Linked DNA regions of Homo sapiens: region 1 is linked to region 2. A link means that fine-mapping ties the variant in region 2 to the expression of a gene that starts in the linked region. Tissue or cell type: whole blood. Region 2 holds a variant in brackets; the other region holds the start of a gene. All regions are shown on one strand. Distances are between the middles of the regions. Region 1 holds the start of SLC71A2 (solute carrier family 71 member 2). Region 2 overlaps SLC71A2 (solute carrier family 71 member 2).

Region 1 (15,841 bases), 29 kb after region 2:
AAAGCCAAAGAGGAGAATATGCTGTATTTATAAAATAACAAAAAAAAAAAAAAGCTAGAAAATTCAAACCAGCTGGGGGCAGTAGCTCACGCCTGTAATCCCAGCACTTTGGGAGGCCGAGGCGGGCGGATGGTCTGAGGTCGGGAGTTTGAGACCAGCCTGACCAACATGGAGAAACCCCGTCTCTACTAAAAATACAAAATTAGCCTGGCATGGTGGCGCATGCCTGTAATCCCAACTACTTGGGAGGCTGAGGCAGGAGAATCACTTGAACCCAGGAGGCGGAGATTGTGGTGAGCCGTTATCACGCCATTGCACTCCAGCCTGGGCAACAAGAGTGAAACTCCATCTCAAAAAAAAAAAAAGGGGGAAGAAAATTCAAGCCAATATATAGTGACAGAGTAGATAAATTATCGCCTGGAAATGGAGGTGTAGAGGGAGGTAAAAAGAAACATTTGAGGGTGATGAATATGTTTACTATCTTGATTATGATAATGGTTTCACAGGTGTATAGATATGTCACAACACAAAACTGTGCACTCCAAACACACAGTTTATTTTATGTCAATTAAACTGAATAAGGTTGTTTAAAAAAGACAAGCAAATACAAAGCTAACTATAAAAAAGTCAGACTAATGCTGGGCACAGTGGCTCACACCTGCAATCCCAATGCTTTGGGAGGCCAAGGCAGGAGGATTCTTTGAAGCCAGGAGTTCGAGACCAGCCTGGACAACAAAGCAAGAGCACATCTCTACAAATAAAAATTTAAAAATTAGCCAGGCATGATGGGACGTACGTGTAGTCCCAGCTACCAGGAGGCTGAGGCAGGAAGATCACTTGAGCCCTGGAGTTCCCGGGTGCACTGAGCCATAATCACACCACTGCACTCCAGCCTGGATGAAACAGTAAGACTCTTGTCTCAAAAATAAATAAATAAATACACATTAAGAATAGATTTCTCTCCAATTCTCACAGAACAATGCTCTTGCTATGCCATAACCTCTTTCTCCATAGCATATCTAAGATTTCATAACCACTTGTGAAAGTTCTATGACATGCTGAACTGGAGGAAGGGAAGAGGAAAAGGGGAAGAGAGAACACATGTAAGAAACTGAGAAATTTCTTTTTTTTTTTTGAGAAAGAGTCTCGCTCTGTCGCCCAGGCTGGAGTGCAGTGGCACGATCTCTGCTCACTGCAAGCGTGGTCCACCTCCCAGATTCACGCCATTCTCCTGCCTCAGCCTCCCAAGTAGCTGGGACTACAGGCGCCCACCACCACGCCTGGCTAATTTTTTGTATTTTTAGTAGAGACAGGGTTTCACCGCGTCAGCCAGGATGGTCTCAATCTCCTGACCTCGTGATCCGCCTGCCTCAGCCTCCAAAAGTGCTGGGATTATAGGCGTAAGCCACCGCGTCCAGCTGAAACTGAGAAATTTCAAAAATGCTTCCATAGGGTAATAAAGCATGTTTACGTGTATACAGCCAAAAGGATACCTAACAGTAAGAAAAAATTAATGTATTCCTGTTACGTAGAGGAGGTTGTATGCACTTTTACCATTACCATTGAATACTTTCCTGGATATTCTAGTTCATTTAACATCAAAATAAGATATAAAATTATCAACACGTGCAATATTTGTGAATATTTATCCAGAAGATCCTACAAAATTAAATATTTTTTGAAAGACAAAGCACAAGTTATCAATGCAGAGTACCAGCCAGGCATGGTGGCTCATGCCTATAATCCCAGCACTCTGAGAGGCTGAGGCTGGAGGATTACTTGAGGCCAGGAGTTCAAGACAAGCCTGGACAACACAGTGAGACCCAATCTCTACAAAAAAATTTAAAAACTAGCCAGGCATAGTGCCACGTGCCTATAGTCCTTGCTACTAGGGAGGCTGAGGCAGGAGGATCATTTGAACCCAGGAGTTTAAGGTTACAGCAAGCTATGATTGTGCGCCACCGCACTCCAGCCTGGATGACAGAGTGAGGCCTCACCTCTTAAAAAAAAAAAAAAAAAGGGCCAGGCGCAGTGGCTCACGCCTGTAATTCCAGCACTTTGGGAGGCCAAGGCAGGTGGATCGCCTGAGGTCAGGAGTTCAAGACCAGCCTGGCCAACATGGTGCAACCCCATCTCTACTAAAAATACAAAATTATCCGGGCATGGTGGCACAAGCCTGTAATCCCAGCTACATGGGAGGCTGAGGCAGGAGAATCGCTTGAACCCGGCAGGCAGAGGCTGTAGTGAGCCAAGATCACACCATTGCACTCCAGCCTGGGCAACAACAGTGAAACTCCGTCTCAAAAAAAAAAAAAAGGAAATGCACACCAAGAATCCCTACAGAAGGTGAAAAGAGCCTACGAGGTCATTATTCACAGCTTTATGCCAACTAATTTGACATTTTAGATAAAATGGGCAAATTCCCAACAAAACACAACTTACTGAAACTGACAGAACTAAAAATCAAACAGAAAACCTACGCTGTTCTAGAATTAATCTCCAAAAGGCCAAGAACTATAAAGTTCTAGAACTGTATTACCAATCTTACACAAATTCTTCCACAGAATAGAAAACCAAACTATCCAATTTGTTTTTAAGGCAGATAGCATTTGGATATCTGTCTCCTCCAAATCTCATGTTGAAATGTGACCCCCAGTGTTGGAGGTGGGGTCTAGTGGCAGCTGTTTGGGTCATGGGGGCTGATCTCTTCTCAATTGTTTGGTGTCCTTCTCACAGTAATGAGTGAGTCCTCGCTCCATTAGTTACCACAAGATCTGATTGGTTTTGTTTATTGTTTGTTTTTGAGACAGAGTCTCACTCTGTCACCCAGGGTGGAGTGCAGTGGCGCCTCCCAGTTTCAAACAATTCTCCTGTCTCAGCCTCCCAGGTAGCTAGGACTACAGGTATGCACCATCACACCCGGCTAATTTTTGTATTTTTAGTAGAGATGGGGTTTCACTATGTTGGCCACGCTGGTCTCCAACTGCTGACCTTAAGTGATCCACCGCACGCGGCCAAGATCTCATTGCTAAAAGGAGCCTGGCACCTCCTCCCCTCTCTCTCTTGCTCCCTCCCCAACACGTGATAAGCTGCTTCCCCTTCGCCTTCTGTCCTGATTGCAAGCTTTCTGAGGCCCTCACCAGAAACAGATGCTGGTGCTAAGCTTCCTGTACAGCCTAAAGAACCACTTTTCTTGATAAATTCCCCAGTCTCAGGTATTCTCAGGTATTCCTTTACAGCAACGCAAACAGCTAACATACACCTCCTTTTTTTTTTTTTGGAAATGGAGTCTCGCTCTGTCGCCAGGCTGGAGTGCAGTCTGTCGCCAGGCTGGAGTGCAGTGGCACGATCTCAGCTCACTGCAACCTCCGCCTCCCAGGTTCAAGCGATTCTCCTGCCTCAGCCTCCTGAGTAGCTGGGACTACAGGCGCCTGCCACCATGCCCAGCTAACTTTTATATTTTTATAGAGACAGGATTTCACCATGTTGGCCAGGATGGTCTTGATCTCTTGACCTTGTGATCCGCCCACGTCAGCCTCCCAAAGTGCTGGGATTACAGGTGTGAGCCACCGTGCCCGGCGACACACCTCCCTTTTCTAGAAGGAAATGATCTCTTGGAGTAAATACTTGATTCTCTTTTATTTTTCAGATTATGACATCTCTCTGCCAGTATCTTTTTCTGGTCAATATATCTCTTTGCCAAATAAGGTAGAAAAAAGTTGTCAGGCCAAGCATCATGGCTCTAACCTATAATCCCAGCACTGGGAGGCTGAGACAGGAGGATCATTTGAGCCCAGGAGTTTGAGACCAGCTTGGGAAACAGGAAGACTTCATCTCTACAAAAAATAAATTAAAAAAAAAAAAAAAAAAAAGCCAGGCATGGTGGCACATATCTGTTGTCCCAGCTACTCAGGAGGCTGAGGTGAGAGGACTGCTTGAGCCCAAGAATTTAAGGCTGCAGTGAGCCATGACTGGCCATTGCAGCCTGGATGACAGCAAGACCCTATCTCAAAAAAAAAAACACAGAAAACAAAAAAGAAAAAAGTTATCAGCTGGACAATCTTCCCTGTGATTACTAGTAGCATCTAAGAACCTGAAATCATGAGTGTCACTGAAACCAAGCTGTAAGGAAATTCCAACACATTAAAATGAAATCAATTCATATAGGGGCTATAGGACACAGCACCCGGAGGTGACATTAGAAACTGCAAACAGGAAAAACACATAATTCAGGGGTACTAGCATATGACACAAACATATATGATTAAAAGCATTCACTGTTCTCCCAACGTCCACACACTCAGAAAAACACTGCTACCTGCTCATGCTAGCCTTCTCACTATCTACAGCAAACACCAAGAAAACTCAGTATTCATCACAATTAACATCAACTCCATGCGTTCTCAGAGAGGAGGAAAGACCAGGCAGGAATCTACCTGTGCCCAAAATTAGGTTACCATCAGGATCCAACGGAGAAAGAACTGGGGAATAAACTGAGTCTAGGTTTCTTTGAGTAAACATCCCTCGCAAGTTTCTGCTCTTAAGCACACAAATTTAGCAACTTTAATTTCTAGGTTGGGGTCTAGTTCCTGTCAACACTAGGAAATGGGAGACAACTACTTTTATCACGGTCAGATCACCTATAGATTGTGATCATTCAATCATACATGCAAAGAATATTACAAAATACTAACAACATTAGTATGTATTAAGGGGCTTACTAGATGCCAAGTTGCAGCAACCCTCACAACCCTCTGAGGTAAATGCCATTATTAATCAGGAGTTACGTTAACTTATCGAACTGTGGAAACTGGGATTTCAAGCATGCTCGTCTAATCACTATACTAATAATGCTTCAACCTGCCAATTTATTTTTTTATTCTGTAAGCCATAAGGAGCCAATGAAAAAAATTAAGGACAGCAGTAATGATCATCTTTACATGCTAGAACACACTACTCAGCCACGTGCAAGGTGGACTGACGCTGGGGTGAGCAAGGGTCTTGAAAGAGATAGTCAAAGTCTGGGTCAAAAATGCTGAGGAAATTCTGAGCATAAGAATGCATAGGAGAGGATAAAAACCTAAAATCTGTATCTAATAAACTTAGCTAGACTTTCTGATTGTTTTAAGTATGGGAAGGGATGAAGGAAGCTACCTCGCAGGTTACTAGCTGGGCCACTGGTTAGTAATTACTGTCCATCAATTCATGAGACAGGAGGAGGAACTGGTGCTTTAGTTTTGTGTAGCAAGCAGGAAGAGGACAAGTCTACTTAACGCGAATCAAAATGAGAGCAAGCAATTATACAGAATTTCTCTCCCTCGACAAAATAAGCTTCTCATATTACAGAGATCTTAACTTTGAAATGCTTTTCAAAATAGGGAGTCACTTGGGCTGGGAGGGGACTTCAACTAAGTCCTCATTTTACAGAGGAGGCACTGAGGGGCAAGGCTGTTTCAATACCCTGTCCAGAGTGCGCACTGTTCAGGCAAAACCAGGACTAAAAACCAGCTCTGCCGGATCCGTTCTACCTACTGCTCCTTCTGCTTCAGCTGCCCTCCCAACCTACTAATAGGGATTTACATCCCCAAATACGTTCATGTAAACACTTAGCATTCTTCAACTAAACACAAAATCAGATATGTAAGCTAAAAATCTAAAGCCAAAAACATGTATTTAATTTCCATAAAATTTCTACTTTTCTTTGGAAAAACTTTCCCATTGTGTCAGTTTCTATTCACTGTAACATTCTCTATATTTCAGGTCCTAAGACCAAAAAAAAAAAATCCTTTTTAAACTTAGGCCTTGAAGAAACGACAAACCCTCTAGGCTTAATATTGCACCATATGAAACCACTGACACAGACAAGGCCTGTTCTGCCGAAACCAGGCCAGTTAAGTCAGGGCTCAATTGCTTCTGTATCATTGTCAGAAGCCATCTCGACCTCAAGCAAAAGTAAAACTGGAGAAAGAGGCCAGCCTAACTTGCTCCTCGGCTGGTCCCCAGCAACGCCCCTGGAAACTCTGCTCCCCATCGCTAGGACCGCCCCTCCGACGCCGGGAGAACACGGAAGGAGCAGCAAGGCGCTGCCCGGCATCTGCCGCCAACTTCCCCGTCGACGGTCTGATTCAAATGCTCCCTACCTGTTTTCCATGTAGACTTGGAGAGAAACTGCGCCAGGAAAACTGTTATCAACTGTTACAGGGACGGAGAACTCCGAAATAACCAAATTACTACTTATATTCACTGTCCCATGTCTAGCGCCTTTTGAAACAATAACCAAATCCTGTAAAGTTTTGTCTGCGATGAGCAGTCACTAGGAAAAACCTGTATTCGTGATGAATTCGCCTCCCCCCCCAGAAAAGGACCGACTTTCCAAGAGCCGAAGCCCCTGCCCGGAGCGGCGGGCTCGCGGGCCCTGGGTGCGACCCCACCCAGCCTCCCCGGGATTCAGGCAGCCGGGCCCCGCGCCCGCGCTCACCCAGGTGCTCCCCGCGGCCTGCGCGCCCGCGCGCTTCTCCGGCATGGCTCCCGCCTCGGGCTCCGACGCCGCCTTCTCCTCCAGCTCCGGCGGCGGCTCCACGCTCATGCCGCGGCCATGCCCGCGCCAGCCCGGGGCGCTCCGGGACGACGGCGACGCCGCGGAGGCGGCGGCGGTGCCCGCGCCCTCATGGGCTCTGCGGCCCGCGGCGGCCTGCGGGTCAGGCGGCGGCGCCAGCGGCGGCGCCGAGGGCTGAGGAGGCGGCGGAGGCTGAAGCTGCGGATCAGGCTAGCAGAAGACCGCAGCTCCAGGAACCGACCACTTATCAAACCGCACCGACCCCGACTCTCGCAGTTACCGGCGGCGTCAGGGGCGGGCTGCACGGTTAAGAGACTGTGCCCCGCCCCGCCTCCCCACAGGCCGGCGCCGGGCAGGAGGCCCCGCCCCGCACCTCAGCTCCCGCCTCGAGAACGAGTCCCGCGCCTGAGTAGCCTCCAGCGACGCCACGCCCACTTCAGAGACCCCTCCTTTACCTCGCGACTGGCCCCTTGGCATCAGGACTTCGCGGCGCGCGGGAAGTACGTCATTTCGAGAGCCCGTACGACTGATTTCTTTTTCCGGAGAATCTGGACTGAGGCTAGCAAGCGGGGAGGGGCAAACTCGTGGGGGTTTGGTAGTGATTGCAGTTCAGTTTTGGTCTTGGTTTGCGCCAACCCGCCAACCTCTCAAGTTTTTCTATGGTTCTCTAAGAAGAAAATAATATACTAGCAATGTTTCCCAAACGTACTTGAACACAACACTTTTTATTCTTGACACATGATTAATATCTTGTAGAATGTGTAGGACGCAGTTGGAAAAGCCTGGCTTATGTTTATTTATTTTGAAAGATATGCACCTAATACTGAAATATAAAAAAGCCTACAGGCCTGGAGCGGTGGCCCACACCTATAATCCCAGCACTTTGGGAGGCCGAGGCGGCTGGTTCACCTGAGGTCAGGAGTTAGAGACCAGCCTGGCCAACGCGGTGAAACCCTGTCTCTACTAAAAAACAAAAACAAAAACAAAAAACACCAAAAAAATTAGCCGGGCTTGGTGGCGCACGCCTGTAATCCAAGCTACTCGGGAGGCTGAGGCAGGAGAATAGCTTGAACCTGGGAGCCGGAGGTTGCAGTGAGCCGAGATAGCGTCACTGCACTCCATCCTGGGCGACAGAGTGAGGCTCTGTCTCACAAAAAAAAAAAAAAAATCTTTTTACAAACATCAATAGAAAAAAGAATAAAATTATTTCTATTAACAGGATTAGTAATTTTAATTGAATTAAAGTCATTTCATTTAAGAATTTTTTCAGGTTGGGCGTGGTGGCTCACGCCTGTAATCCCAGGACTTTGGCAGGCAGAGGTGGGCGGATCGCCTGAGGTCAAGAGTTCCAGACCAGCCTGGCCAACATGGTGAAACCCCGTCTCTACTAAAAATACAGAAGTTAGCCGGGCATGGTGGCGGATGCCTGTAATCCCAGCTACTTGGGAGGCTGAGGGAAGAGAATCGCTTGAACCCAGGAGGCGGAGGTTGCAGTGAGCCGAGATGGTGCACTGCACTCCACCCTGGGTGACAAGAGTGAGACTTCGTCTCCAAAAAAAAAAAAAAAAAAAGCCTCTTTTTCGCTTCCCACCCACTACCCCCAAACACACACACACACACTTTGCAGAAGTCTTTACTTTTATTTATTTATTTATTTATTTGAGACAGAGTCTTGCTCTGTCACCCAGGCTACAGTCACCCAGCCTAGATCAGTGGCGTGATCTAGGTTCACTGCAACCTCTACCTCCCGCATTCAAGCGACTCTCCTGCCTGAGCCTGCCGAGTAGCTGGGATTACAGGTGCGCGTCACCATGCCCGGCTAATTTTTGTATTTTTAGTAGAGACGGGGTTTCACCATGTTGGCTGGGCTGGTCTTGAACTACTGACTTCAAGTGATCCGCCCCCCTCGGCTCACCGAGCCGGCCTGGTCTTTTTTCTTTTTTTTTTTTTTTTTTTGAGACGAAATTTCGCTTTTGTCGCCCAGCCTAGATCAGTGGCTCGATCTCGGCTCACTGCAACCTGTGCCTCCTGGGTTCAAGCAATTCTCCTGCCTCAGACTCTCGAGTAGCTGGGATTACAGGTGCATGCCACGACCTGGCTATCTTCTGTATGTTTAGTAGAGACAAGTTCACCATGTTGGCCAGGCTGTTCTCGAATTCCTGATCTCAGGTGATCCACCCGCCTCGACCTCCCATAGTGCTGGGATTACAGGCGTGAGCGACTACACCCAGCCTGATTTGTCTACTTTTCTGAATGATTGTTTTAACAAATAGTTTTCAAAACACAGAGGGAATATATGTATTATGTTATGCTGTTTGAGTATTATGTTTATGCCACTTATGAGCTTGGGTATCAGTTTCTGATTCCTGTATCCATGAAACAGAAAAGTTTGTAAACTGTTTTTTTGTTTTCTTTTGAGACAGTCTTGCTCTGTTGCCCAGTCTGGAGTACAGTGGCGCGATCTCAGCTCACTGCAACCTCTGCCTCTCCGGTTCAAACGATTGTGGTGCCTCAGCCTCCCGAGTAGCTGGGACTACAGGCACCTGCCACCACACCCAGCCAATTTTTGTATTTTTAGTAGAGACAGGGTTTCACCATGTTGGCTGGGCTGGTCTCCAACTCCTGACCTCAAGTGATCCGCCTGCCTCAACATCCCAAAGTGCTGGGATTACAGGCATGAGCCACCATGCCCAGCCTGGACTGTTTTCTTAAATAGACTTACAATAAAGTTATCCTAGAGGGAATAATGGAGTTTTTTGAAGTTTATTTTCTTTATCACAAAAGCCACTAAAGTTTGCTATAATACTAGCAGTGTATATTTTTAACTACAGAATAGGCTGTGATTCTACTGAGGCAAACTTATAAATTATACCAGATAAGTATACCATTATATCTTTGATGGTTGATATTGCCATATCAGCTATATCAGAGTAACATATGCTAATACAGTTCTTTTTCCTAAGAGGAGAAATTCAAACAATTTGCTGATCTTTTTTTTTTTTTTTTTTTTGATACAGAGTCTTGCTCTGTCGCCTAGGCTGGAGTTCAGTGACGCGATCACAGCTCACTGCAGCCTTGACCTCCTGGGCTCAAGTGATCCTCCCACCTCAGCCTCCTGGGTAGCTGGGACCACAGGTGCATAAAACCATGCCTGGCTACCTTTTTAATTTTTGGTAGAGACAGTGTCTCACTGTGTTGCCCAGCCTGTTCTCCAACTCCTGGGCTCAAGCAATCTTCCTACCTCAGCCTCCCAAAGTACTGGAATTATAGGCGTGAGCCACCGTGCCTAGCCTTGCTGATTTCTATTTAATATTTTTGTTGAGATTTTTCGCTTTAAATAAATTAATCATCTGGTCTTAAAGCTGGATTTTAAGATTGGGTTAAACTTAATGCTAAAATAGGGTATCTAATAACTGAGAGTCTTTAATCCCCAAGACTATCCTCTGGTTTAATGATTCACTAGAAGAACCCCAAAAAGCTATTTTACTCATAGTTACAGTTTATTATAGTGAAAGGATACAGATGAAAATAGCAAAGGTAAGAGGCAGCAGAGTCCACGAGAGACCACGCACAAGCTTCCAGTTGTCCTTTCTGAGTAGAGTCTATGGGCAGCACCACTAATTCTCCCAGCAATGATATGGATCTGGGTGCTGTGCTCTCTCTCTCTCTACTTGTGTGTGTGTGTGTGTGTGTGTGTGTGTGTGTGTGTGTGTGTGTTAACAATACATGTAGTTTCAGAATTTCTAACTCTGTGGAAGCAAGTTTTCCAACTACAGTGTTTATGTACGGTTCTTTTTGTTTTTATCCTGAAAGTAGCCAGTCAAAACAGTTTTCCAAATCAATTCAATTTCTTTCTTATTTACTCAAATCAATTCTTTTTTGATTGAGTAATCAATCAAACTTTTATTTATTTACTCAATTTATTTTTTCCCCACTCACTTTGGTGAGGTTATGCCATACCTTTGTAATATAATTAAGTTCATTTGTCGTGCTGGCCATTCTATCCTAAGATCCCACATTAATTTGCATAAAGTTAACTCTCTGCAGTGTATTGTTCTGTGGATTTTGACAAATGGATGGGCCAGGTGCAGTGGCTCAGGCCTGTAATCCCAGCACTTTGGGAGGTCGAGGTGGGAGGATCACTTGAGACCAGGACTTCAAGAGAAATAGGTAGTTATGCATCTACTGCCACAAGACCCTAAATATTCCCTTGTGTGGTCAATTTGTAATCAACAGAAAGGGGGAAGTGGTATTGAATTCATCACTTTTTATATATAATTTGAATCTTTTTTAAAGTATGATGCAATTGGGTTGTTCAATAATGTCTGTGAGTCTCCTTGTACTGGCAGTTGTCTGCTGGGAAGGAAATCCAGAGCTGGCACCTGCATGGCCCAGATCCAAGCCAAGGTGTATAAAGCAATACCTTCACATGGTATCTTTGTTGCTGTTTCTCCACCCGTCTACTGTTCCCTGTGTGAAAGGATAACAAACTGTCTTACGATAATTGTCTAAATGTTTAAAACACACTTCACTTAATTTTGTTTGTTCCGAGCACTACTTTGTAATTGCAATTATAACAATGTGTTAAGATAAACTTATTTTCACAGATTTTTTTTTTTTGAGATGCAATATCGCTCTCTCACCCAGGCTGGAGTGTGGGGTGCAGTGGTGCAATTTTGGCTCACTGCAACCTCTGCCTCCCAGGCTCAAGCGATTCTCCTGTCTCAGCTTCCCAAGTAGCTGGGATTACAGGTGCATACAACCACACCCAGATAATTTTTTTTTTTTTTGAGATGGATTCTTGCTCTGTCGCCCAGACTGGAGCGCAGTGGTGCAATTTTGGCTCACTGCAAGCTCCACCTCCCGGGCTCAAGCAATTCTCCTGTCTCAGCCTCCCAAGTAGCTGGATCACAGGCACATACTACCACACCTAGATAATTTTTTTGTTTTTTCAGACGGTGTCTCGCTCTGTCACTCTAGAGTATAGTGGCACAATCTCAGCTCACTGCAACCTCCGCCTCCCAGGTTCAAGCAATTCTCATGCCTCAGCCTCCTGAGTAGCTGGGATCACAGGTGCCCACCACCACGCCCGGCTAACTTTTGTATTTTTAGTAGAGATGGGGTTTCACCATGTTGGCCAGGCTGGTCTCAAACTCCTGAACTCAGGTGATCTGCTCGCCTTGGCCTCCCAAAGTGGTGGGATTACAAGGGTAAGCCACTGCGACTGGCAACAGATTTTAGTTTAAGATAATGTTCTAATGAAAACTTGTTTTCAGTATTTGCAATGCATTATCAGTCCTATCTGAGAGTATTCAGTTAGGTTGGCGCTTTTTTTTCTCTTTTTTTTTCTTTTGTTTTTAATGGAGAACTATCCTTACTGAACCTCCTCAATTATTTGCCTTCCATTCAGCACTAAGCTAAAAGGCAGATGTGAATTGCCATCTGGAAAAAAAGTATATTTGGCAATTATACATACCAAGGTGATTCAGAGTCAAATGGACCGGGCAAATGTTTTATACAAAGGGTGGAATTTTAGTTAGAATGGCGATCATTAAAAAGTCAGGAAACAACAGGTGCTGGAGAGGATGTGGAGAAATAGGAACGCTTTTACACTGTTGGTAGTGTAAACTAGTTCAACCATTGTAGAAGACAGTGTGGCAATTCCTCGAGGATCTAGAACTAGAAATACCATTTGACCCAATGATCCCATTACTGGGTATATACTCAAAGGATTATAAATCATGCTACTATAAAGACACATGCACACATATGTTTATTGTGGCACTATTCACAATACCAAAAACTTGGAACCAACCCAAATGTCCATCAATGATATACTGGATTAAGAGAATGTGGCACATATACACCATGGAATATTATGCAGCCATAAAAAAGGATGAGTTCATGTCCTTTGTAGGGACATGGATGAAGCTGGAAACCATCATTCTGAGCAGACTATCACAAGGACAGAAAACCTTGACACAGGGCAGGAAACATCACACATGGGGGCCTGTTGTGAGTTGGGGGGCAGGGGGAGGGATAGCATTAGGAGAAATACCTGATGTAAATGATGAGTTAATGGGTGCAGCAAACCAACATGGCACATGTATACCCATGTAACAAACCTGCACGCTGTGCTCACGTACCCTAGAACTTAAAGCATAATAATAATAATAAAAAGGTAGAATTTTACGTGACCCAGGCAAAGGGTTTATTCTACAATGTGTGTGAACCATGTAAAAAGTAGGAACGTAAGGACTTTTTTCCTTGCCCTACTTCCGTTTCACATGCTAGAAATATATACAGCATGCTGCCTGCTGTCCCTGTAGTCTTCGCAACAGAAGTGATACCATCTCTATGCCAGAAGCAGGAATTGCTGATGTAGGTCAGCCCCTCTTTTTCCTTGTCACCCTCGCATAGTCAATGATCAAATCTTGCTTATGCCCTTTCTCACCTCCTATCTCTTTCACCACTCCATCAAAGCAACTGTTGTGCCCTATTTATTTTATATGTCAGATTGTTCTATGCCTGCTTACTGCCTTAGTTCATACCCTTCCCATTTCTCAGCAGTTTGCTGTACATCTTTGGGTTCATTTCCACTTATGCATTGTACTCTTCACACAAAATTAGTCTTTCTCACCAAAAGCAATTGTAACAAAAGCAAAAATTGACAAATGGGATCTAATTAAATGTAGGAGCTTCTACATAGTTAAGAAACTGTCAACAGAGTAAACAGCCTACAAAATGGGAGAAAGTTTTTGCAAACTATGCATCTGACAAAAGTCTCACATCCAGGCTCTATTAATATAAGGAACTTAAACAAATCAACAAGAAAAAAAAGCCAACCCCATTAAAAAGTAGGCAAAGGACATGAGCAGACACTTTTCAAAAGAAAACATACATGCGGCCAATGAACATATGAAAAAAAGCTCAATATCACTTATCATTAGAGAAATGCAAATCAAAACCACAATGAGATACCATCTCACACCAGTCAGGATGGCTATTATTAAAAAGTCAAAAAATAACAGATTCTGACAAGGTTGCAGAGAGAAGGGAATGCTTTTACACTGTTGGCGGGAGTGTAAATTAGTGCAAACCATTGTGGAAAGCACTGTGACGATTACTCGAAGAGCTAAAAACAGAACTATCATTCAACGTAGCAGTCCCATCTCTGAGTATATTACCCAGAGGAATATAAATCATTCTATCATAAAGACACATGCATGTGAATGTTCACTGCAGCACTAGTCACAATAGCAAAGACATGGAATCAACCTAAATGCCCATCAATGACAGATTGGATAAAGAAAATGTGGTACATACATGCCATGGAATAGTATGCAGCCATAGAAAAGAATGAGATGATATATTTTGCTGGATCACTCATGGAGCTAAAGGCTATTATCCTTAGCAAACTAGCACAGGAACAGAAAACCAAATACCACATGTTCTCACTTATAGGTGGGAGCTAATTGATAAGAACTCAATGACACAAATAGGCGAACAACAGACAGTGGGGACTACTTGAGGGTGGAGGGTGGGGGGAGGGAGAGGATTCAAAAAAATAACTATTGGGTACTAGGCTTAGTACCTGGGCGACAAAATAATCTGTACAACAAACCCCCATGACACTAGGTTACCTATATAACAAACCTGCACATGTACCCCTGAACCTAAAAGTTTGGGGAAAAAAATGGTCTTTCTAAAATACAAATCTATCTTACTACATCACTTTCTTGCTAAAAATTCTTCAAGATATCCCGTTTTCATGAAGGAAAAGGCTCTGGTGCGTTAGCATGACATGAATGCCTCAGGCTCTGGCCTCTCCCCACCTGTCAGCCTTATCTCCTGGCATTTTTCTACACCCACATCATTGGGCTCCCATCATCTGTCAGGCTCCCTCAGTCTGAAATAGCCTCTTTCTCCTTCTCCTCCAGCCATTTATCTAATTCCTGTTTATAGGTATTCTAACTCCTGTTAAGACTCAGCTCAGGTATGGTCTCCACCAGGTTTTCCCCAAGTTTCCTTTCCGTATTGCAAAACCTTTCCTTGCACCTTCTGTACACTTTGTTTAGATTTCTGTCAACATATAGTTCTCTGAATGTTTAAAAAAAACAAAAAACAAACAAAAAAACACATAATCTTGCCGGGCACAGTGGCTCACGCCTGTAATCCCAGTACTTTGGGAGGCCAAGGTGGGTGGATCACTTGAGGTCAGGGGTTCGAGACCAGCCTGGCCAAAATGGAGAAACCTCGTCTCTACTAAAATACAAAAATTAGCTGGGCCTGGTGGTGGGTGCCTGTAATCCCAGCTACTCAGGAGGCTGAGGCAGGAGAATTGCTTGAACCCGAGAGGCAGAGGTTGCATGAGCCAAGATTGCACTATTGCACTCCAGCCAGGCGACAGAGCGAGACTCCGTCTCAAAAAACAAAAACAAACAAACAAACAAAAAACATAATCTTATCCAAAGAGATAGTGAGCACATGCCAACATTTTATTTATCTCGGTAATAAGGGAACCCATAAAGTGGGTTCAAAAGAGAATTTGAAAAACGAGGATTATTACAGTCAATGTGAACAAAATGGAAGGATGAATTAATATTGGCACATTAGATGCAGCCCTAGTTAATGTCCTATTGGGCAATTAAACTGTAGCAGTTGGGGTGATCTCATTTTTCCACCATGGAAAAGAAAACCAACTCATCAGTTTCTTAGGAGATAATTTCTAACTTTACAGGGCTGTAAAATATCTGAGCCTACCAGTAATAACATCAAAAATAAATAGTCAAAACCCTTTGAGAGTCAGAAGACCCTTGGATGGGTTTGTCAGACAATCGTCTTATAGCATGACATTGATGGAAGTGGAATCTCTTTACTTTGTTTCCACGTTTTGAGTAATTTTGCCTAGCACTATCATTGTTTACCCTGATGCTATACTTTTTAATTCACTCAACCTGGCATATACTGTGAACTTGAGAGAACTTAAGCTTTGGTGTTCAAACTGGGGTATGTATACCCCTTGTAATATGGAAAGACTTTTCAGGGGTTACGTGGCCATGGATAGCTTTTAGATGACCAATTTCCAGGCCCTCGTCCTAGGTGTGTACTCTTTCCTACAGCTAACCTGCTCCCTGAAGTGTCTCTGTTTTGCAAGTTCCTCTTTTCTTCCCAGTCCAATCACCCTTCTGCCACTTCACCAAAGCCTCCCACCCATCCCAGCCTGCTCATGAGCACACCCTGAGACCTAAACACTCCCATTTTCCATTAAGCAAAAGAGCCAAA
Region 2 (15,841 bases):
CAGTGAGCCAAGATCACACCACTGCACTCCAGCCTGGGGGAAAGAGTGAGACTCCATCTCAAATAATAATAATTTTAAAATTTTTGCTAATTTGATTTTTTTAATGGTTATTTAATTTTATTTTGTATTTCCCTTACTCCCAATGAAGCTGAGCTTCTTTCCTATGATTAGGAATTTGCGTTTCTTTTTCTGTGAACTGCCTGTTCATCTTCTGTCAATTTTTTATTGGTGACTTTAATCTTTCATATTGATTTATAGGACCCCTTTAGAATCAATATTAAAAACATTTATACAATGCAACATCAAATTATCATTCTCAGCCAGGAGCGGTGGTGTGCACCTGTAGTCCCAGCTATTTGGAAGGATCACCTGAGCCTAGGAGTTCAAGTCCAGCCTGGGCAACACAGCAAGAACCCCATCTCTTAGGGGGGGAAAAAAATAGGCCCAGTGCAGTAGCTCATGCCAGTAATCCTGGCACTTTGTGAGGCTCAGGTGGCAGGTGGGAGATTTACTTGAGGCTAGGAGTTCAAGACCAGTATAGACAACACAGTGAGACTCGATCTCTCCAAAAAATTTAAAAATTAACCAGGCATGGTGACATGTGTCTGTAGTACCACCTCCTCAGGAGACTGAGGCAGGAAGATCGCTGGAGTGCAGGAGTTTAAGGCTACAATGAGCTATGACTGCACCACTGCACTCTAGCCTGGGCCACAAAGTGAGACTCCAGTCTCGTTTAGGAAAAAAAAAAGCCATCGTCCTCACCTACCGGCATCAATACTCTCTAAAAATAAAAGGCACAAATACACAAATCAACAATAGCTGGAGACTTCAATACCCATTTTCAGTAACTGATAGAACAATTAGAAGATCAGCAAGAAATAGAAGACTTCAGTAACACTGAACACTAACTAAACCTAACAGACATTTATTGAACACTCTTCCCAACAAGATATAAATCCTCAAGTGCACATGAGAAGACTGTAAAACAAGTTTGAATAAATTTAAAAGGAGTTAATTTATACAAACTATGTTCTTGACCACACAGAATGAAATTAGACATCATTAACTTAAGAAAATTTGGAAAATTCATGAATATTAAAATATTTAAACATACTCCTAAATAACAGATAAAAGAAATCACAAGGAAAGTTACAAAACTTTCATTTGAACAAAAATGAAAATGTAACACACCAGTTGAATGCAGCTTAAAGCAGCGCTTAACAGGAAGTGTACAGCTGTAGATGTGTGGTTATAAAAGATCTCAAATCAATAATTTAACTTTCCACTGTAAGAAACTAGAAGAGAGCAAACTAAACTCAAAGCAAGGAAAGAAAGATCAGAGCAGATACAAACGTGATACAGAATAGAAAAGCAATACAGAAAAATCGACAAAATCAGGCCGGGTGCAGTGTGAGCCTAGCACTTTGGGGGGTCAAGGTGGGCAGAACACTTGAACCCAGGAGTTAAGAAGTTAAGACCAGCTTGGGCAACATGGTGAAACCCTGTCTCTACTAAAAATACAAAAAAGAAAAAGTTTACCCAAGCATGGTGGCACATACACCTATAGTCCCAGCTATTTGGGAGGCTGCAGTGGGAGAATCGCCTGAGTCCAGGAAGTTGAGGGTGCAATGAGCCATCATCATACCACTGTACTCCAGTCTGGGAGAAGGGAGTGAAACCTTGCCTTAAAAAAAAAAAAAAAAAAAAAAAAAAAGGAGGCCGGGCGCAGTGGCCTGTAATCTCAGCACTTTGGGAGGCCGAGGCAGGCGGATCACGAGGTCAGGAGGTCGAGACCATCCTGGCTAACATGGTAAAACCCCATCTCTACTAAAAATTAAAAATAAAAAAAATTAGCCAGGCGTGGTGGCGGATGCCTGTAGTCCCAGCTACTTGGGAGACTGAGGCAGGAGAATCGCTTGAACCCAGGAGGCAGGGGAGCTTGCAGTGAGCAGAGATCGTGCCACTGCAATCCAGCCTGGGTGACAGAGCGAGACTCCGTCTCAAAAAACAAACAAACAAAAAAAACAGAAAAAGGAAAGGGAAGAGAAAATCAACAAAACCAAAATTGATTTAATGAAAATATCAAACTAATGGACAAACCAAGAAAACAGAAGACCTGAATTACTAATACCAGAAATGAAACAGAAGATAATAATGGTCAACCTTACAGAAACAGGATTATAAGGGAGTCTCATAGACAATTAGCCAACAAACTGGATAAATGAAACAAAATGGACAAACTCCTAGAAACACATAACCTACTAAAAATGAATCATGAAGAAACAGAAAATATAAATAGACCTATAACTAGTAAGGAGATTGAATCAGTAATCAAAAACCTCCCAGAATTCCAGCAGAGTTAAGAATTAAACCTCTTCCCAAGACATGAAGAGGAGAGAGCACTTTCTAACTCACTCTTTGAAGCCAGCATTACAGTAGTTGCCCCCTTATCCAAGGAGGATACATTCCAAGATCCCTAGTGGATGCCTCGAAAAGTACCAAACCCTATACAGCTGTTCCTCGACTTACAAAGGGGTTAAGTCTCAATAAACCGACTGTAAGTTGAAAATATACTAACTTGAAAGTCGCTTTAGACTTATGATATATTCAACCTACGATGGGCTTATCCAGACAACCCAACCATAAGTAGAGGTGCATACTCAATGCATATTGCTTTTGCATCAAGGTAAAGTTGAAAAATCTTAAGTTCAACCATCAAATTTGGGACCATCTGTATATACTGTTTTTTCCTACACACACCTATGATTGAGTTTAATTTCTAATTAGGCACAGTCCTCTTGTGCTTTTGGTCATTATTAAATAAAATAAGGGCTACTTGAACACAAGCACTGTGATACTGCAGTCCATCCGATAACTGATGGCTGACTGACTAACAGATGGGCAGCATATAGAGTGTAAATGCTGGACGAAGGAATGGAGCAAGATGAAGATGGCAAAATATTTCATCACACTACTCAGAATGTGACGTGTAACTTAAAACTTATGAATTTTTATTTCTGGAATTTTCCATTTAGGATTATCAAACCTCAGCCCACTTCGGGTAACTGAAACCATGGAAAGCAAAACCACAGAGAGCAAAATCACAGATCAGGGAGTACTGCCATACTCTAAAAAAGCCAGACAAAGACACTACAAGAAAACTATAGGGCCAGGCACAGTGGCTCATGCCTGTAATCCCAGCACTTTGGGAGGCCGAGGCGGGTGGATCACAAGGTCAAGAGTTCGACACCAGCCTGGCCAACATAGTGAAACCATGCCTCTTCCAAGAATACAAAAATTAGCCGGGCGTGGTAGTGCGTGCCTGTAATCTCAGCTACTCAGGTGACGGAGGCCAGAAAATTGCTTGAATCTGGGAGGCGGAGGTTGCAGTGAGCTGAGATCATGCCACTGCACTCTAGCCTGGGTGACAGAGCAAGACTCCATCTCAAAAAAAAAAAAAAAGAAAACTACAGACCAATTTTCCTTATGCACATTGATGCAAAAATCCTCAACAAAATATTAGCAAACCAAATTCAACAGTTTATTAAGCAGTTTATTATGGTTATACACCATAACCAAGGACTTATTCTAAGAATGTAATAACAGTTCACCTATGAAAACCAATCAATGTAATACAACACATTAAAATAAAGAGGAAAAACCCACATAATCATCTTAATTGATGCAGTAAAAGCATCTGACAAAATTCAACACACTTTCATAATAAAAACACTTAGAAAGCTAAGAAAAGAATAAAATTATCTCAAATAATAAAGGCCAAATATGAAAAACCCATACTTCACATCATATTCAATGGGGAAAGGCTGGAAAAAGGCTGGAAACTTTTCCTCTAAGATCAGAAACAAGACAAAGATGCACACTTTCCCCACTTCTATTCAGTATAATACAATACTGGAAATTCTAGCCAGAGTAATACGGCAAGAAAAAGAAAGAAATGGCATCCAAACTGGAAATGAAGAAGTAAAATTATCTCTGTTCGCTGATGACAAGATCTCATAAGACCCTAAAAATTCCACACACAAAAAACCTGTTACAACTAATAAATGAATTTAACAAAGTTACAAGATACAAAATCAACATTAAAAATCAGCTGCATTTCTATACACTAAAGATTAACAATGTTAAAATGAAACTTAGAAAATTCAAATTGGGCTGAGTCCAGTGGCTCACACCTGTAATCCTAATGTTTTGGGAGGCCAAGGCAGGAAGACAGCATGAGCTCAGGAATTTGAGGCCCTCCCAGGCGACATAGTGAGACTTTGTCTCTACTAATAATCAAAAAACGGCTGGGCACAGTGGCTCACTCCTGTAATCCCAGCATTTTGGGAAGCTGGGGCAGGCAGATCATGTGAGGTTGGGAGTTTGAGGTCAGCCTGACCAACATGGTGAAAACCTGTCTCTACTAACAATACAAAATTAGCTGGGTGTGGTGGTGCCTGCCTGTAATCCCAGCTACATGGGAGTCTGAGGCAGAAGAATCGCTTGAACCCGGGAGGCGGGGGTTGTGGTGAGCCGAGATTGCGCCACTGCACCCCAGCCTGCAACAACAGTGAAACTCTGTTTCAAAAAATAATAATAATCAAAAAACTTAGCCAGACGTGCTGGCGCACACCTGTGGTCCCATCTACTCAGGAGGCTGAGGTGGGAGGATCACTTGAAACTGGGAGTTCAAGTTTGCAGTGAGCTATGATCACCCCACTACACTCCAGCCTGGGCAAGAGTGACACCCAGCCTCAAAAAAAAAAAAAAAAAAAAATTCAAGTTGCAATAGCATCATAAAGAATAAGATACTTAGGAATAAATGTAACGAAGAAGGTGAATGACCTCTATGCTTAAAACTGTAAGACACTGCTGAAAGAAATTAAAGAAGGTATAAATAAACATAAAGACATCCCATGTTCATGGATTTAAAGATTTAATATAGTTAAGGTATCACTGTTACCAAAAGTGATCTGCAGATTCAATGCCAGTCCTATCAAAATCCCAATGATGCTTTTTGCAAGAAGAGAAAACTCCATCCTAAAATTTATATAGAATCTTAAGGGACCCCCAAAAGCCAAAACAATCTTGAAAAAGAAAAAAAATTATCTCACACTTTCTGAATTCAGAACTTACTATAAACATATGGCAATCAAAACAGTGTGGTTCTGGCATAAAAACAGACATGTAGACCAACAGAATAAAAAGCCCAAGTGGGCATGGTGGTGTGTGCCTGTATTTCTACCTACTGAGGAAGCTTAGACAGGAGAATCACTTGAGCCCAGGAGTTCAAGTCCAGTCTGGGCAACATGGCAAAGCCCAGTCTTTTTTTTTTTTTTTTTTTTGAGACGGAGTCTCGCTCTGTCGCCCAGGCTGGAGTGCAGTGGCACGATTTCCGCTCACTGCAAGCGTGGTCCACCTCCCGGGTTCATGCCATTCTCCTGCCTCAGCCTCCCGAGTATCTGGGACTACAGGCGCCCGCCACCATGCCCGGCTAATTTTTTGTATTTTTAGTAAAGACGGGGTTTCACCATGTTAGCCAGGGTAGTCTCGATCTCCTGACCTCGTGATCTGCCCGCCTCAGCCTTCCAAAGTGCTGGGATTACAGGCATGAGCCACTGCGCCCGGCCTAGTCTTTTAAAAAAATAAATTAAAAGCCTGGAAATAAAAAGCCCAGAAGTAAATACATATATGTCACAAATGATATGCAACAAGGGTACCAAGGCCATTTAATGAGAAAGGAAGGACAGTCTTTCAGCAAATGGTGATGGAAAAACTGGATATCCACATTAAAAAGAATGAAGTTGGATCGCTACCCTAAACCATATATAAAAGTTAATTCAAAATGGACCAAAAATCTAAACATAAAAGCAAAACCTATGAAACCCTTAGAAGAAAACATGGAGGAAAGCTTCCTGGTATTGGATTTGACAATGACTTCTTGGATATGGCACCAAAAGAACAGCCAACAAAAGAAAAAATACATAAAAATCAAACTTCATCAAAATGAAAAACCTTCATATATCAAAGGATACTATCAAGACAGTGAAAAGGCAATCTACAGAATGGCACAAAATACATGCAAATCACATATCTGATAAGAGATTAATACCTAGAATATATAATAAACTTTTTCAACTCACAGACAAAATAACAACTCAATTAAAAACAGGCAAGGAAACTGAATAGCCCTCTCTAAAAGAGATACACAAATGGCCAAGAAGCACATGAAAAGATACACATAGGCCGGGCGCGGTGGCTCATGTATGTATGTAATCCCAGCACTTTGGGAGGCTGAGGCAGACAGATCACTTGAGATCAGGAATTTGAAACCACCCTGGCCAACATGGTGAAACCCTGTCTCTAGTAAAAATACAAAAATTAGCCAGGCATGGTGGCGCATGCCTGTGTTCCTAGCTACTCTGGGGGCTGAAGCAGAAGAACTGCTTGAATCCGGGAGGCGGAGTTTGCAGTGAGCCAAGATTGCACCACTGCATTCCTGCCTAAGAGACAGACCAAAAATCTGTCCCCCAAAAAAACAAAAAAGAGAAAGAAAAAAGAAAAGATACACATCACTTATCATTAGGGAAATGCAAATCAAAACCATGAGGTATCACCACATACTCATTAGGATGGCTACTGTCTTAATCTGTTTTGTGCTGCTATAACAGGATACTTGAGACTGGGTAGTTTATAAATAACAGACATTTATTTTCTCAGTTTTGGAGGCAGGGAAGTCCAAAACAAGGTATTAGCATCTGGGGTGGACAGTCTTACAGCATCCTCACAAAGCAGAAGGTGGAAGGGCAAAAGAGGATGAGCCCTCTCCCACAAGCCCTTTTTAATAGCAGCATTAATCCATTGATAATGGTGTAGCCCTCATGACATAAACCCTTCCCAAAAGGCGCCACCTCGCAATACTCCTGCACTGGGAATTAAGTTCCCAACACATGAATTTTGGGAGACACATTCAGACTACAGCAGCTGTGATTTTTTTCTTAAATAAGAAGATAAGTGCTGGCAAGGACATGAAGAAATTAGAAGCCTTGCACACTGTTGGTAGGAATGTAAAATGGTGCAGCCCCTATGGAAAATGGTTTGGCAGGTACTCAAAAAATTAAAAATAGAATTACTCCATGACCCAGCAATTCCACTTTTGGCTATCTATTCAAAAGAAACAACAGCAGGGACTTGAACAGATTTTTATATACCCAAATTCACAGAATTCTCTCACAACAGCCAAACCGTAGAAGCAACCCAAGTGTTCAACTTATGAATGTTTAAACAAAAT[A/T]TGGTACATGTATACAATGGAATATCATTTAACCTTAAAAAAAAAAAAAGGAAACTGACTGTCACAACATGGATGAACATTAAGGACGTTGTAGTAAGTGAAATAAGCCAGTCACGGCTGGTAACGGTGGCTCATGCCTGTAATCCCAGCACTTTGGGAGGCCGAGGTGGGTGGATCACCTTAGGTCAGGAGTTTGAGACCAGCGTGGCCAACATGGTGCAAACCCGTCTCTACTAAAATACAAAAAAATTAGCCAGGCGTGGTGGCGGGCGCCTGTAATCCCAGCTACTTGAGAGGCTGAGGCAAGAGAATCACTTGAACCCGGCAGGCGGAGGTTGCAGTGAGCCGAGATCGCGCCATTGCACTCCAGCCTGGGCAACGAGAGTGAAATGGAAATGGAAATGGAAAGGAAAGGAAAGGAGCCAGTCACAAAAAATCAAATATGGCATAATTTCACTTATATGAGGTACCTACAGTAATTAAATTCATAGACAGTAAGTAGAATAGTGACTACCAGGAGCTAGGGAGTTATTGCTTAATGGGCACAGAGTTCAGTTTGGGATGATGAAAAAATTCTAGAGACAGATAGTGGTAATGAGTACACAACAATGTGAATGTACTTAATGCTATTGAACTGAAACTTTAAAAACTATGTTATGCATATACACTAAAATAAAAATAAGTAACTCAAACTACATCATGCATTAAAAATAAAATGCAAAACTATTAGCTTCTAGAGGATTATTAGGAGAAAATATAAGTGAACTTGGTCACATGGTTTCAAGATGAGTCTGTAGGTACAAGACTAAAGTCATGCCACATGCAAGAAAAAGTTGATATAGTGGACTTCACTAAAATTAAAAACCTCTGCTCTGCAAAAGACACTGGTAAGTGAATGAAAAGATAAGCCACAGATTGGAAGAAAGTATCTGCAACAATCTTATCTGATAAAGAACTTAAGAACATAGAAAGCGCCCTTACAAGTCACTAATACAACAACCCAATTAAAAAATGGGCAAATGATCTGAGAAAAGGGAGAGATGGAGAGTGACAGTTAATGGAAAGATATAGGGACTCTTTTGGGGGAGATGAAAATGTTCTAGAATTAGATAGTGGTAGTTCTACATCACCGTGAATATATATTAAAAAAACCAAACTGTATACTTTTAAAATGATGAACTGTATGGTACGTGAATGTATCTCAATTTTTAAAATGCAATAGAGAGAAAAGAGAGCAGAGATTCTTTTTCTGTCTCTGGAATACTTTAACTGTATGTGAAGCCTAGAACTGTCAGAGGCGTGTGAACCAGAGCGACTCCATCTTGAATAGGAGCTGGGTAAATGAGACTGAAACCTACTGGGCTGTATTCCCAGACAGTTAAGGAATTCTAACTCAAAGGATGAAGATAGGGAGCACAAGATACAGGTCATAAAGACCTTGCTGATAAAGCAGGTTACAGTAAAGAAGCTGGCTAAAACCCACCAAAAACAAGACAGAAATGAGAGTGATCTCTGGTCATCGTCACTGCTATACTCCCACCAGTGCCATGACAGTTTACAAATGTCATGGCAACGTCAGGAAGTTACCCTATAGGTCTAAAAGGGGGAGGCATGAATAATCCACCCCTTGTTTAGCATATAATCAAGAAACAGCCATAAAAATGGGCACCAGCAGCCCTCAGGGCTGCTCTGTCTATGGAGTAGCCATTCTTTTGTTCCTCTACTTTCCTAATAAACTTGCTTTCACTTTAGGGACTTGCCCTGAATTCTTTCTTGTTCGAGGTCTATCCAGGAATCCTCTCTTGGAGTCTGGATTGGGACCCCTTTCCTGTAACTGAACTATGGCAGCCATCTTGAGACCATGAGAGCCAGACAAATCAACACACTGAAGATGGAAAGAACCTGGTCCTTGACGCAAAATCAAGGACCAATCCTGGAACTGTCTTTCCATCAGATTTCTTGTTAAATGAGGTAATAAATCCCGATCGTCAACAAGAAAAAGGGGGAGGGGTGACAGGACCGCAACAGTCTCCTCAAAGATGATATACAGATGGCAAATATGCCTATAAAAAGATGTTCATTGCTGGGCGCAGTGGCTCACGCCTGTAATCCCAGGACTTTGGGAGGCCCAGGTCTTGATCACCTGAGGTCAGGAGTTCAAGACCAGCCTGGCCAACACGGTGAAACCCCATCTCTACTAAAAATACAAAAAAATTTGCTGGTTGTGGTGGCGGACGCCTGTAATCCCAGCTACTTGGGAGGCTGAGGCAGGAGAAAATGCTTGAAATCGGAAGGCGGAGGTTGCAGTGAGCCAAGATCGCGCCACTGCACTCCAGCCTGGGTGACAGAGTGAGACTCCGTTTCAAAAACAACAACAAAAAAATTAGCCTGTGTTTGAGGGTCCTCTTTTCTATTGCAGTTGACCCCACATGAAAGAGCGAAACTCCGTCTCAAAAAAAAAAAAGGAAAAGAAAAGATGTTCATTATGTGTCACTGTCATTTTAAAATGCAAATTAAAACAACAAGATTGTTAGAAGGATGGATCTGAAATGCATATTGCTAAATGAAAGAAGCAAGTCTGAAAGGCTACAAAGTGTAAGATACCATTTAAAGGGCATTCCGGAAAAAGCAAAACTATAGATAGTACCAGATCAGTGGTAGCTGGAGTTGGAGGGTAGGGTTAAATGGATGAAGCACAGGACACTTTCAGGTAGTAAAATTGTTCTGTATGATATTTTAATGATAGGTAAACGGCACCACGCATTTTTCAAAACCAGCAGAACTTCAGAGAACAAGAGTGAGCCTCAGTACATGTTAACTTTTAGAAAACATTTCAGAGGTGGAGAATCCCAGGATGGAACGCAGAATGTAGCAAAAGAATCTAATTGCAGTACAAACACAGGAAACAACCTCACTAAAGGGGGTATGGGGAAAGGCAGTGATCCAAGTAACTCTGGGAAATAGTGGAGTCTTTTTTTTTTTTTCATTTGGAAGCTGGAATTTTATCATAGGCAACAAATATTATCAGTTGTTTTTTTTTTTTCCTTTAAGACTGGAGGCAAAAAAAGTTGCGCATAAATGAAACTGGCTCAATTTCCCCATAGAAATTATATGTACAGGTCTTTGAATAAACATAGAAACTGACCCTTCCAGTTTTAAAACCTAAAACTTATATTTGTCTCCAATGAGTTCTTTCCTCAGGCAACGGACTGAAACTCACCAAATCACCATTTGACAATGAGACCCCAGACACCTCTTTCCCCTCATAGGTCAGGACTGCTTCCTTATCCTTTTCCTAATTGCTGTTTTCCTCACACATAGTTACATTCCTTTTTTCGGTACATAAACTCCCCAGTTTTAGTTGGTCGAGGAGGCAGATTCGAAACTGATCTCCCATTCTCTTCAGTAGGCAACACCTAAATAAAAAGGCAAAATTTTTCTCTGGCCGGGCGCAGTGGCTCTGGGTGTAATCCCAGAACTTTGGGAGGCCTAGACGGGCGGATCACTTGAGATCATGAGTTTGAGACCAGCCTGGCCAACATGGGGAAACCTCCCATCTCTACTAAAAATACAAAATTAGCCAGGCCACCGTGGTGGCACACGCCTGTAATCCCAGCTACTCGGGAGGCTGAGGCAGGAGAATCGCATGAACCCAGGAGGCAGAGGTTGTAGTGAGCCGAGATCGCACCATTGCACTCCAGCCTGGGCAACAAAAGCGAAACTCCATCTCAAAAAAAAAAAAAAAGGCTTTTTCCCCGGCAATACTCACCTCAGTGATTGGCTTTCTGTGTGGCGAGAAACAAGACCTAGATCGACCACCTGGCATTTCTGTAACTTAAACACTGTTATGCTATAGTTGAAAGTTGTACCCCATGGAAATAAAGATTAACAATTCTGGAACCATGTATGCTGTGACTGACCAATTAAATAAACTGGATGGCAGATGGTGGAAGCCAGGTTTCTCACTGCTGGAGTGGAAGGTTACAAATAAACAAGAGAAGGAAGCAAGAATGATCCATGTAATCATGGATTAGAGTTGAGCACATCATTATGAACTCATTTTTAACTTCATATAGATACAGATGGTCACAAATGGAAATACTTACAAATGTGTGTATTATATACACCTGTTTCCTCACACTCTATCAGCTGAAAGAGCCTGAAAGAAACTACACCCTAGAAACTCAACGGCAATAAGCATATCTAGTGTGACACATCTTGGTTTCAAATGCCATTCTCAAATAAAAGAAACCAGGGCTCCTTGGAGAAACAGCTAATTCTGGGACTAGAGTGGGAAATATGTAAGAGGAGCGTGGAGTATCTTGTAATCCCAGAATATAAGCATGGCAAGCCAGGTCTCACTAACTCAGGCCCCCAAAACAACTGTTTCTGTACAGACTGAGTAGTTAAGTTAAATGTTAAAAGCTGAAAGAGCCGGCCGGGCACGATGGCTCACATCTGTAATCCTAGCCACTCTGGGAGGCCAAGGTGGGCGGATCACCTGAAGTCAGGAGTTCGAAACCAGCCTGGCCAAAATGGTGAAACCCCATCTCTACTAAAAATACAAAAATATTAGCTGGGTGTGGTGGCAGGTGCCTGTAATCCCAGCTACTTTGGAGGCTGAGGCAGGAAAATCGCTTGAACGCAGGAGGCGGAGGTTGCAGTGAGCCAAGACTGCCCCACTGCACTCCAGCCTCAGTGACAGAGCAGAGCAAGACTCCATCTCGGAGGGCGCGACGGGGGGGAGGGGAAGAGCCAGTACCCTTATGCAAAGGCTGGAATTTAACAAAAGCCCACCAAGAGTTTTGCCTAGGCCTTTCCTGGGCCTTAAAGCATGACAAAATAATGAAGGAATTCTTAAGGCCCATTTAGGATTAAACAAGTTTTACTGTGGGTCTAAAGAAACTTCCCAGGCCTCCACAAACAAGTTTATTGGGGTGTGAAGGAACTCCCAAACCTCCGTGATTTAGCAGGAGACAAGATAAGGGTAATCACTCCAGCACCTGGACCCATTTAGATTAAGTAAATGTACTGAGGCTCCAGAGGAAGGTCTTCAAGACTCAGACCTTAGTTATGGACCAAAAGTTGTTAATCATTAAGATGAATGCACACTTACAGGTAGACATATAACTTAGAAGGTATATAAGCTACGGAAACTTTGTAATATTGAGTTGGCCTGGTGATAATTTCCAGGTATTCTCCCTGTAACCCATTGCAGAAATAAAAACTTTCTTCCTCCCCAGTTCATCTGCATCTCATTATTGGGCCTTAAGAAGTAGCAGCCCAACTCTCAGTTTGGTCCAGGAACATAAGTGTTTTAAAAAAAAACAAAGATAGGGTTATATATGTCAAAGCACTCCCAATGGCCAATGCTAGAACAATTTGAACAAGAAAATAAAGCAATATTGGATTTGGGGATAATCCAAAGTACAAAATAAATATCTATGAGTTCATACTGATAAAATGATTAAATAGAAAAGAACAAGCAAATCTCCCATGCAGAGGAATTTCAAATAATTTATGCAGACACTCTGCCCCCAAGTAGGTGGAATATAACTACTCATTCTGAAAGCGTGGGCTGCACATAGTGACTTCCTTCCAAAGTGTACAGTATAGAAACGGGTAAAAGAGCAACTTTACAGTGGAGAAATCTGATAAACAGTATCTCAGCCAGGTGATCAAGGTTAACATCAACAGTGGCACATACTGTTGATATGATATAATGAAAATGGTACTTCATCTCTATGGGCTTCTTCCCAAACACCCGTAATTCCACTCTAATCATGAGAAAAACAACAAGATTAATCTCAATTGAGAGACATTCTACAAAACACTTGATGAGTCCTCCTCAACACTGTCCAGGACATCAGAAACAAGGAGCGCCTAGGAAACTGTCACAGTCCAGAGGAGCCCAAGAAGACACAACAACTAAATGTAATGTAGTAGCATGAGATACTGGAACAGAAAAAGAACATTCAGTAAAATACAAGAAATCTCAGTAAAGTATGTATGGACTTTAGGGGTTTTTTCTTTGGCAGTGGATTTTTTTTTTCCTTTTTTTTTTTCCAAACACTCTCCCAAGTAGCTGGGACTACAGGCACACACCACCATGCCTGGTAATTTTTGCTTGTTTGAAGAGCGATGCCCAAGCTGGTCTTGAACTCCTGGTCTCAAGTGATCCTCTGGCCTCAGTGTCCCAAAGTAGTGTGAGCCACCATGCCTGGCTGCTTTTAGCTGATAATAGTGCATGGACACTGGCTCATTAATTTTGACAAATGTACCATGCCAGTGTAAAATGTTAATAATAAGGGAATATGGGTATGGAGTATAGGAAAACTCTATGCTATCTGCAATTTTTCTGTGGATATAAAACTATTCTATAAAAAAGTTTTATTTTAAAAAATAAATGGACAAGAATATAAAAACATCCTGAAGGAGAAAAAGAAAGGGACAGAGGAAAAATTAGTACTATTAAATGTTAGAGGCCGGGCACGGTGGCTCACGCCTATAATCCCAGCACTTTGAGAGGCTGAGGCAGGTGGATCACCTGAGGTCAGGAGTTCAAAACCAGCCTGACCAACATGGAGAAACCCCATCTCTACTAAAAATACAAAATTAGCTGGGTGTGGCGGCGCATGCCTGTAATCCTGGCTACTTGGGAGTCTGAGGCAGGAGAACTGCTTGAACCCGGGAGGCAGAGGTTGTGGTAAGCCGAGATCCTGCCAGTGCACTCCAGCCTGGGCAAGAAGAGCGAAACTCCGTCTCAAAAAAAGAAAAAAAATATATTAGAGCAGGGGTTAGCTAACTACAGCCCACAGTCCAAATCTAGTCCACTGCTTATTTTTATAAAGTTTCACTGATATTTAGCAGTGCTTGTTCATTTACATATTGTCTGTCTATGGCTGCTTTTGTGCTATACTGGCATAGCTGAGTAACATATGGCCAAAAAAACCCTACAACATTTATTACCAGGTCCTTTACAAAAAAAGTTTGCCAACCCCACCCCACTTTGTTTTCATTTTACTTTAATTTTTTGGAGACAGAGTCTCCCCATCTGTTGCCCAGGCTGAAGTGCAATGGTGCAATCTCACCTCACTGCAACCTCCGCCTCCTGGGTTCAAGACATTTTCATGCCTCAGCCTTCCCAGTAGCTGAAACTACAGGTGCGTGCCACCACAGCTGGCTAATTTTTGTATTTTAGTAGAGATGGGGTTTCAGTATGTTGCCTAGGCTGGTCTCAAACTCCTGAGCTCAGGCAATCCGTCTGCCTCGGCCTCCCAAAATGCTAGGATTACAGGTGTGAGCCACTGCGCCTGGCGCCAACTCCACTTTGAATAAATAGAACCCAACGCAGAGTTCACAAATACCAATTATATGGGTATATCACAAATATACTCATATAATTTATTATCTGAGCAGCTGCGGATATCCCATGACTTGCCTGAGCAGAGGCAGGTACTTCACTGCCATATCCCTATAGCTTCTTTTCCATTTAGCACACATCCTCCTCCTATAATACACAACTCTTTCAAAGACAGGCTCTAGTAATATTTCTCTAAACGTATCCTGAACTCAGAGATAACAGACATTTGTTGTGGCAGAAAAGGCTGGCTTCCTACACTGCCCACTCCTCAGCTACTCAGGAGGCTGAGGAGGATCGCTTGCTAACATCTTCTCAGTTTTGTTCATGTTTCATTAACTGCATGCTTAAGCTGACCATGGTCACCATCTTGAGACTGCAGGCCAGAGAGCTCACTAGGTCCGGAGATGAATCTAATTCAACCATAATAATTCCATGATTTAAGACAGGAATGAGCTACATGGCCCAACTGTGGTCAATGAGATATAAGGGAAGACATGTGGGAGGGCTTGTGAACGGTTTTTCACTCTCTAAGGGACGCATAACAAAACAGTTTACTTCCAATTTGGGGGCACTGCTGTGTAATGATATGCTACAGTTGCTCAGTCATCTTGAGACCACAAGGGGTCAATCCTGAAGATCCAAAGCCAGCACACTGGGAAGAGCAAATAAGAATATAATGAGTCCAGGTCCTCAGCAATATCATTAAGCTGCTGTGCTAAGCACTCTATTCCTGGAGTTCTTATGTGCAATAATAAATCCCCTTATTATCAAATACATCATGTATAGGCATTTTGCACAATGCTAACTTATTTAAAATGAAATATTCAAGTTTTATTTTTATGAGCAAGTTAAGAAATCAAGAATATAACTGTCTAAACTGTTGACTCTACTGTACTTCTAAACAGCAAAAAAATATGATTCTAAAATACATTCAAATTGAAAACTAGTGCTCCCTAATTTGAACATACTGCCACAAGGCCAAGCATGGTGGTTCATCCCCGTAATCCCAGCACTTTGGGAGGCTGAGGCGGGTGGATTACTTGAGGTCAGGAATTCAAGACCAGCCTGGCCAACATGGTGAAACCCCCTCTCTACTAAAAATATAAAAATTAGCCAGGTGTGGTGGTGCACGCCTGTAGTCCCAGCTACTCGGGAGGCTGAGGCAGCAGAATCACCTGAACCCAGGA

What was found. PIP is the estimated chance that this variant, and not a neighbour inherited with it, causes the effect.
Region 1: it holds the start of SLC71A2, and the variant in region 2 is fine-mapped to the expression of SLC71A2 in whole blood (INTERVAL, PIP above 0.99).

What each region holds. Positions count from the first base shown.
Region 1 is chr9:94,365,565-94,381,405 of GRCh38, reverse strand. SLC71A2 (solute carrier family 71 member 2) reads right to left here and starts at 6,837. Exons shown (of 12, transcript NM_032558.3): 1 at 6,479-6,837. The coding sequence starts at 6,586. RefSeq lists enhancers at 957-1,036, 6,068-6,567, 6,568-7,069 and a silencer at 6,619-7,018.
Region 2 is chr9:94,395,003-94,410,843 of GRCh38, reverse strand. All of the region lies in intron 1 of SLC71A2 (solute carrier family 71 member 2), which reads right to left. Among named protein-coding and RNA genes, the nearest start is that of SLC71A2, 28 kb to the right of the region's middle. The variant A/T (reference allele first, on the strand shown) is at 7,292.